Regions from separate parts of the Homo sapiens genome. Here region 2 is linked to region 1. Evidence: fine-mapped expression QTL. A gene starts in region 1. The other region holds a variant in brackets. All regions are shown on one strand. Distances are from middle to middle.

Region 1 (4,378 bases):
CTGGGTGCGGTGGTGCATGCCTGTAATCCCAGCTACTCGGGAGGCCGAGGCAGGAGAATAATTTGAACCTCGGAGGCGAAGGTTGCAGTGAGCTAAGATTTCACCACTGCACTCCAGCCTGGGCAACAAGAGCAAGACTTGGTCTCAAAAAAAAACCCAACACGATCGTATCTGGCCCATCACTACTGAACAGCCATTGGCCACTACTATTATGATTGCTTCGTGAATCATCACACTACCCTTTAAAACAAATTTTTTTTTTTGAGATGCAGTATCACTCTTTCACCCAGGCTGAAGTGTGGTGGTGCCATCTTGGCTCACTGCAACCTCCGCCTCCGGGGTTCAAGCGATTTTCCTGCCTCGCCCTCCTAAGTAGCTGGGGTTACAGGTGCCTGCCACCACACCTGGCTAATTTTTGTATTTTTAGTAGAGACGTGGTTTCGCCACATTGGCCAGGCTGGTCTCGAACTCCTGACCTCAGGTGATCCACCCGCCTTGGCCTCCCGAAGTGCTGGGATTACAGGCCTGAACCACCATGCCTGGCCCATACTACCCATTTTACAGACAAGCAAACTGAGGCTCAGAGAGGCCTGTATCCAAGCCACCTGGTAGCAGAATAGGGATTAGAACTCAGCTTGGTCTAAGGGTTTCAGGCCCTGGGACCGTGAAGCAAAAGGAACTCTTCCTTCCTGATATCACACAAAGCCCAGGTCACGCCTGCACTGGGCAGAAGTTCGAGCACGAGGCCCTAAACCACTGGTGTCCTGACCTGCTGAGTGGCTACAGTGATGCAGGCGATGCTCTGGGGCACCGGGTGTCCATCCTCCCAAGGTGCTGTCTGCAGGGGAGGGTGCCAGCCAAAAGCCACCGGGTAGAAAGAAAACAAGGACCTTGCTAAGATGGGGGGTCATCTGGGCAGATGGGGCCCCTGCCTACCTTTGGGGGGGCACTGGAGTCATAGCAGTGCTCAGTCCCCAGATGGTCCACAGGTGCATCCTTTTTGTTCCTCATGGCACGGATGTTGACCAGCTGTTGCTGCCAGTCCTGGGGCTCCCAGACTGGCACCTTGAGGGGCTCAGCCCCCTCACCTTTCTCACTGTCCGAGCCCTCATAGGCCACACGCAGTCTCTGTGCTTTCCGCGGACGCTTCACGGGGCTGTGGCTTTTCCTCGCTTCTGCAAAAAGCACCACGCAGTCCCTCTGGTGGGGCCACAGGTGAAGGTAGGGTAGGGGTGCCATCCCGCCTGCTAGCTCACCCCTCACTCGTTCATGCCACAACTGTCCATCATCTAATACACTTGGGGTGCTCTGCCCTCTGCAGTCTGGGGTATGTGGGCCCTCCTTATGCCAGCGACCCTGACAAGGTCCATGTTAGCTCATGAGGACTCTAGCAACAGCCTGTACCAAGGTGCCCCCAATACATCTTCTATACTGCACCAGAGACAGTCTGCTAACACCCACATCAGGTTGTGTCACTCCCTTTTAAAAAATCCTGGCCGGCCGGGCGCGGTGGATCAAGCCTGTAATCCCAGCACTTTGGGAGGCCGAGGTGGGTGGATCACTTGAGGTCAGGAGTTCAAGACCAGCCTGGCCAATATGGCAAAACCCCATCTCTACTAAAAATACAAAAGTTAGCCGGGTGTGGTGGCAGGGGCCTATAGTCTCAGCTACTTGGGAGGCTGAGGCAGGAGAACTGCTTGAACCTGGGGGGCGGAGGTTGCAGTGAGCTGAGATCACAACACTCCACTACAGCCTGGGTGACAGAGCAAGACCCGATCTCAAAACAAACAACAAAACCTCCTAATTGACTTCCGTTTACTGTCATAATAAACTCCAAACTCTATCCTGGCATCAAAGCTCCTGCCACCCTGGCTGGCATCACCACCTGCCTGCTCCCAGCTGCACCAGTTCCTCCTGACATAGTCTGGACTACCCCTGGGGTCCCTGGGTGCCTATGGGAATCCAGCTCTGGCCAATTCTGCAGAAGTCCCAGCGGGACTAGCGCAGAGGCCCTGTCCGTGTCCCTCACTGCTCACTGCAGTGCTTGGCCCCCAGCAGGTCCTCAACGGCTGCAGGATAAATATAATAAGTGCCATGCCCTTTCCTGTTTTCCCTCAGAGGCACCCTCCCCCGAGCTGGGGGAGCAGGCTTCTGGCTGCGTGTGTCCTTGGCACCCAGCCTCTCCGAGGACAGCAAGTTCACTGCAGGAGGGCGGGGATGGGACCCACAGAGCCTGGAGTGGAGAGTCCCGGACAGAGTGGTGGGAAAGGAAGCGTTTTCTTGCTTGGGGCGAAAGGGGGCAGCGGAGCGGAGCGCCCGAAACCCAGCCCCTGCGGACCGCAATCTTTGGGAAAAAGGCGCAAGGTGGGAACGCAGGGCCGCACGTGGGAACCGTTCGCGGCTGCCGGGTTTGCAGCCCCTGCCCGCGCAGCTGGGAGCCGCAGGAGGCGGCCCGGGACTCCAGCCTGCAGCCCCTATCCCGCCTCCTCCCACGCTCCAGCCACGGCGCGGCGCTACCTGCTGCAGCCTCTCTTCTCCGGAGAGGCCCGGGCTCCTCCCTACACCCCCGCGGCCCAGCCCCGGGTCCCAGGCTCCGGCTCCGGGTCAGCATCCTCGCGCTCAAGGCGGTCATGCCGGACTCCTGCGGACTACACATCCCGGCGGCCCATGCGGCCCCGTCACGTGATGCAAGGATCGCCGGCCTTTCCGCCAGAGGGCGGCACAGAACTACAACTCCCAGCAAGCTCCCAAGGCGGCCCTCCGCGCAATGCCGCTACCGGAAGTGCGGGTCGCGCTTCCGGCGGCGTCCCGGGGCCAGGGGGGTGCGCCTTTCTCCGCGTCGGGGCGGCCCGGAGCGCGGTGGCGCGGCGCGGGGTAAGTGGCGGTCCCCACGGGGCAAGTGGCGGTCCCCACGGGGCAGCGGCCTAGAGAGGCGGACCCCGCAGTGTCCGGGTCCCGGGCCCTCACCCGCGCCCACTGCAACCCGACTCCGGAGCTCCGAGCATCCCTTAGTTTTAAGTCATGGCGGGTGCGAACGGGTCTCTGCTGCAGGCGGCTCCGTGACAGCTCCTGCTTCACATGGGTAGAGGAGAGACGGCAAACGTCGGGGCTCCCAGGACTTCGCGGCGGCAGTCCTAACCCGTGCACTGAGTCGGGCGGGGCGGGCGGCAGCGTCTGAGTAGAGAGCTCTCTAGACCAGGCCTGGTGTCTCCCGGGCTTTCCTAGGTGCCTGTTTGCGAGCTGGTCAGCTGGGCTGTAGTTGAGTTCTCCCAGGGAGTGTGGGAGGAAAGGTTATGCCCACCAGAGACCCAGGGTCCTGACGGCTGGAGGTCCGCAGTGGGGAAGGTGGGCAGAGGTGTTGCTCAGATGTCCCCATTCCTGTTTCGTTTGCACAGAGGGGTTTTCTGGTGCGTCCTGGTCCACCATGGCCAAACCAACAAGCAAAGATTCAGGCTTGAAGGAGAAGTTTAAGATTCTGTTGGGACTGGGAACACCGAGGCCAAATCCCAGGTCTGCAGAGGGTAAACAGACGGAGTTTATCATCACCGCGGAAATACTGAGAGTGAGTGAGCTACCTGTGTCTTTGCTAGGCTAGAGGGAAATGCAGAGAAGGCTGGGTTTGGTCTTGCACCAGGTTCTGTGGGAGACGGGTTGCTGGCAACTGTCTACACAGGAATGCTGTCTCCAGTACTTGGAGGCCGACATGTCCTTCCTCAGGAGACTTCGAAAGTCAGGATCTTGGTGACCTGGTTCAGGCACACTTGAGTTACTATTCAGATGTTGATGAAAGAAAGCCCATCTTATAGATGAGGCCTGAGTATCATCATCTTCACAGGTAAGGATATGTCCAGGTGTTACATGATAAGATGTGAGTTCCTGGGAGAAGTAGGTTCTTTATTTTATTTTTTTTTTGAGACTGAGTCTTGCTCTGTTGCCTAGGCTGGAGTGCAGTGGCACAATCTCTGCTCGCTGCTACCTCTGCCTCCCAGTTTCAAGTGGTTCTCCTGCCTCAGCCTCCTGAGTAGCTGGGACTACAGACACGTGCCACCACACCCATTTAATTTTTGTATTTTTAGTAGAGATGGAGTTTCACTATCTTGGCCAGGCTGGTCTTGAACTGCTGACCTCAGGTGATCTGCCCGCTTTGGCCTCCCAAAGTGCTGGGATTACAGGCATGAGCCATCGCACATGGGCTAGGTCGTTATCTTTTATGTGTGTTTGTGTCTTTGTCACACATGCCTGGCATTGTGTTTTGCCCATGAGTAAATGCTGAATTTTTGCACTTGTAAAGTTTTCTACTTAGAAACAACTAAAACGTTCATCAACTGATGAATAAAATATAGTCCATCCTGGCTGGGTGCGGTGGCTCACGCCTGTC
Region 2 (4,378 bases), 51 kb after region 1:
GCCCGAAGCACTGTCCGAGCAAGGGACGGCCAAGGGTTGAGGAAGCCGGGAGGGTGAGGGCCACGCGCTCTGTGTGGATGCGGAGTCTGAGCTGCCGTCAGAAATCCCCGCGGAAGCACTGAATCTGGATTTCACAGAGCTTTGGGCCGGAGATACCTGGGGCTGGTCAGCATGTAGTGACTACCCCTGGATTTCCCCATACTCTGTATTTTTAAAACCAACCAGCAATTTATTCATAAAGATGCCCTCATGTGATGGTTATCTGCCTTTTGTAAATCAGGAAGTTTTCCTTTTTGTTTGAGTCCAGGGGCAGTTCATACCTCTTTAGTTCTTGGTTGCTTAACAATGAGAAGCACTCAAAGGAATAACACACAAATCAAACTAGATGTGGATGCAAAAGCAGCAGTCACGCACCACTTAGTGCCAGGGATGTGTTCTGAGAAATGCGTCATTAGGTAATTCTGTTGCTGTGCAAATGTCACAGGGCGTAGTTACCCAAACCCAGACACCGCAGCCCCTGTGCATGCAGGCCCTGTGGTGTGGCCTGTGGCTCCGGGGCACCGCACCTGCACTGCATGCCACTGCACTGAATCCTGCAGGCAGCTGCAGTGCAACGGCAGGGCCGTGTGGACCTCAGCACACCTGAGCATAGGAGGGCATGGCAGAGCCCGGGGTCACACGCGTGGGAACACGCCGTGGGTGCGCTCCGCCGCCGGCTGCCATGTGCGTGACTATGTGCGTGACTACATACAAGGTAACCTCTATATGACCATTTGTTGATAAGTTACAAAACAACCAAGAAATTGAGGAATTTTTTTGTTTTTGAGACGGAGTTTCGCTCTTGTTGCCCAGGCTGGAGTGCAGTGGCGCGATCTCGGCTCACTACAACCTTCACCTACCAGGTTCAATCGATTCTCCTACCTCAGTCTCCCGAGTAACTGGGACTACAGGCGCCTGCCAGCATGCCCGGCTAATTTTTTGTATTTTTAGTAGAGACGGGGTTTCGCCATGTTGGCCAGGCTGGTCTCGAACTGCTGACCTCAGGTCATCTGCCCACCTCGGCCTCCCAAAGTGCTGGGATTACACGTGTGAGCCACCGCGCCCGGCCAAAAATGGGGTATTTAAAAACCCGCCCATAATTTCTCACTGCTCTGAGACCAAGATAAAAACGTGGCCCCGGCCAGCCTCACACAGGAGCCTTTCTGCTCCTACAAAGCCCCATGAGCCTGCTCCCTCCCTAGAGGGAAGGTTCTGGGGCCCTGGGGATCCCATGAGGCTCTTTCCACAGACAACAGAGGTTCAGAGAAGTGAAGTGGTGCAGCCACAGCCCTGCCCTGGCACCCCACCCCACCCTACCCCAGGCGGGAACCACGGCTGCCTGGCCTGAGTCCCGGCCCCTCCTCTGGCAATCCCCCCTCCCCCGAGAGCCGGACACTCACAGGCTGCTGAGCAGGTCCGTTTCCATGTGGGTGTCTTGGGTAGGGGCTGGGCTGCTGACCCCCTCGGCAAGGACCTGCTGGATCAGGTCTTCATCTAGAGGTACAGGAGGCATAGGGTGGGCCCAGCTGCAAGGGTGAGCTTCAGAGCCCCCTCCTCTCACCCCAGCTCACCTGATGCTGAGAAGGATTTGGCAGGCGAGTAGGGGCTGGCCAGGGAGAAGCCGTCCTCCTCTGGGCCCAGCCCATGGCCCGCCTGGCCCCGTGCCAGCTGCCGCAGATTGCTACCCACAATGGACGGGTCACTGAGCAGGTCCGGCCAACTGAGCGTTCCCTCGCCGGAGGGCCAGCACACCAGACTGCAGGTGGCGCGGGTCAGCAAGGTACCAGGGGATGTGTCACACACACAGCCCACCCCCGTCCAGTCACGCACGGACACCCTGGGCTTCCGAGCAAACCTGCTCCCGGGTGGTGTGACCACATGGAGCCACAGACACCCAGCAAGGACACGCAGCCCGCACACCCCCGGCACCCCAGACACAGTGACCTGCACCAGGGCTCGAGGTTTCTCTAGGGAACCCACCTCTTAGAATCATCCAGAAACAAGTCACTCTTCATCTGTCCAACAAAGGCCTGCTGAGAGGTGCACAGTGTCTTGAGTCCAAGCTGCGCCAAGGCGGCAGGACCCCCAGCCCAGCCCAGGACCCCCAGTAGAGTCCTCACCTCAGCGTGGAGGCCTGAGAACGTGAGGAAGGAGCTGTCCAGCACGGACGAGTCCAGGCAGCTGTCGATGTCCAGCACCTGCTGCCCGGCAGGTGTGGGGCTCGGGCTCCCAGCCACCTGCAGGACGAGGGCAGTGGTCAGCGGGCGGCAGCTCAGACCTGCTCAGGACAGGGATGAGAAGCCACCTCCTCAGCAGACAGGACAGAGCCCGGTGCCATCTGACAGAATGTCCTAGAATGCTGGATATATGGGACATCTGCACCGTCCGTGATGGCAGCCCCTCGCGACGTGTGCCACTGAACACTTGACAGCAGACTGGTGCAGCTAAGGAACAGAGTTTTAAATTTCATATTTTCTTTTTTAGATGGAGTCTCGCTGTCACCCAGGCTGGAGTGCAATGGCGCAATCTCAGCTCACTGCAACCTCCACCTCCCGCGTTCAGGCGATTGTCCTGGCTCAGCCTCCTGAGTAGCTGGGATTACAGGTGCCTGCCACCATGCCCAGCTAATTTTTTGTATTTTTAGTAGAGACGGGGTTTCACTGTGTTGGCCAGGCTGGTCTTGGAACTCCTGACCTCAAGTGATCTGCCCGCCTCCGCCTCCCAAAGTGCTGGGATTACAGGTGTGAGCCACCACACCCGGCCATCGTTCCATTTTAATTAACTTAAA[T/C]ACGAGCAGCCACATGTGGCCTCTGGTTCCTGCCACGGACTCGGGAGCAACCCCTCCTGGTCGCGGCTTATGCGCCTTCTCTGTGTGCTGCTGGGGTTAGTTTGCATGTAACCTCTTGAGGACCCCACGTGTGCATTCCTAAGGGGTGCGGCCTCCCGTTTCCGTATGAATGGGAAGCGTTCCCACCTGCTGTATTCTTGGAAAGAGTCTGTGAAGGATTGGTGTTAATTCTTCCTTAACTGCTTAGAAAAATTCTATCGTGAAGGCTCTGAGCCTGAGCTTTTCTTTGTGGGATTTTTTTTTTTTTTTTTTGGAGATGGAGTCTTGCTCCGTTGCCCAGGATGGAGTGCAGTGGCGCAATCTCGGCTCACTGCAAGCTCCGCCTCCTGGGTTCATGCCATTCTCCTGCCTCAGCCTCTCGAGTAGCTGGGACTACAGGCGCCCGCCACCATGCCCAGCTAAGTTTTTGTATTTGTAGTAGAGTCGGGGTTTCATTGTGTTGGCCAGGCTGGTCTCGAACTCCTGACCTCAAGTGATCTGCCCGCCTCGGCCTCCCAAAGTGCTGGGATTACAGGCGTGAGCCACCGCGCCTGGCCCTTTTTAATGTTTTATATAGATGGGGTCTTGCTATGTTGCCCAGGCTGGTCTCAAACTCCTGGACTCAGATCCGCCCACCTCGGCCACCTGAAGTGTTGGGATTACAGGCGTGAGCCACCACACCCGGCCCGGCCACTGGGACGTTTCTAAGGGACTAACTCAGCCTCTTCACTTCCTATAGATGTACTGAGATTTTCTTCTGGAGTGCATTTCGGAAGCGTGCACAGCCGCGTGCTTGCTTCTTCTGAGTTATCTGGCGTGCTGCTGTGCAGTCGTCCGTGGCGTCTGCTTAGCAAAGTGCCCTCGTTCTTTCACCATTCTGGCTTCTGAGTCTTCTCTCTTTCTCCCTGGTCAGTCTAGCTAAGGCTGCTCAAGTGTGTTGACCCTTCCCGAGCAGCCTTTGGTGGACGCCTTTCCCTCTGGCTGCAGCACTGGAAAGTGGCGGCCCTAGGCATGGTGCCGAGGCCCAGGCTCCATTCCCAGTACTCCCGGGTCCCCAGCCCCAGCCCACCTTGCTCCGGGACATCCGGAAGAGAAAAAGGATGGCCAGGTAGACGGGATAGACAACCACGCTGGACACCAGGCCAACAGCGACTGTGTCGACGCTCAGCGGGCTCAGCCTGGACACATGCCCCGTGCTGTGTGGAGGAGAGGAGGCCACACAGGTGAGGCTGAGGGGCAGGAAGGGCTGGGCAGGAAGAGGCTGCCCCGACCCCTACGGCACCCACCTGTAGGCAGAGTCGCCAACAGCCCCGTACCACACGGCGTTGGCGCCCAGGAAGAGGCAGATGAGGAGAACGCAGCAGGTGGCCCTCTGGATGCGAGTGAAACGGCTACGAGGCGGCCGGTCCCATATGGAGAGCCAGATGTGCTTGTCAAAGAAGCCACGCTGCAGCTCAGCCACCAGCAGGCGCCGGAAGCGCAAAAGGGCTGCGTCGCCTAGAAGGCAGGGAG

What was found. PIP is the estimated chance that this variant, and not a neighbour inherited with it, causes the effect.
Region 2: its variant is the best candidate, but not a certain one, in a credible set for the expression of NTHL1 in whole blood (INTERVAL, PIP 0.61).

Annotation. Positions count from the first base shown.
Region 1 is chr16:2,045,192-2,049,569 of GRCh38, forward strand. It overlaps NTHL1 (nth like DNA glycosylase 1), which reads right to left and starts at 2,643. Exons shown (of 6, transcript NM_002528.7): 1 at 2,518-2,643; 2 at 937-1,175. The coding sequence starts at 2,632. It overlaps TSC2 (TSC complex subunit 2), which reads left to right and starts at 2,794. Exons shown (of 42, transcript NM_000548.5): 1 at 2,794-2,874; 2 at 3,396-3,562. The coding sequence starts at 3,425. RefSeq lists enhancers at 2,047-2,546, 2,138-2,197, 2,648-2,737 and a silencer at 2,828-3,057.
Region 2 is chr16:2,095,709-2,100,086 of GRCh38, forward strand. PKD1 (polycystin 1, transient receptor potential channel interacting) reads right to left here. Exons shown (of 46, transcript NM_001009944.3): 29 at 4,153-4,363; 30 at 3,936-4,062; 31 at 2,160-2,276; 32 at 2,020-2,072; 33 at 1,611-1,795; 34 at 1,440-1,533. Among named protein-coding and RNA genes, the nearest start is that of PKD1-AS1, 6.5 kb to the left of the region's middle. The variant T/C (reference allele first, on the strand shown) is at 2,828.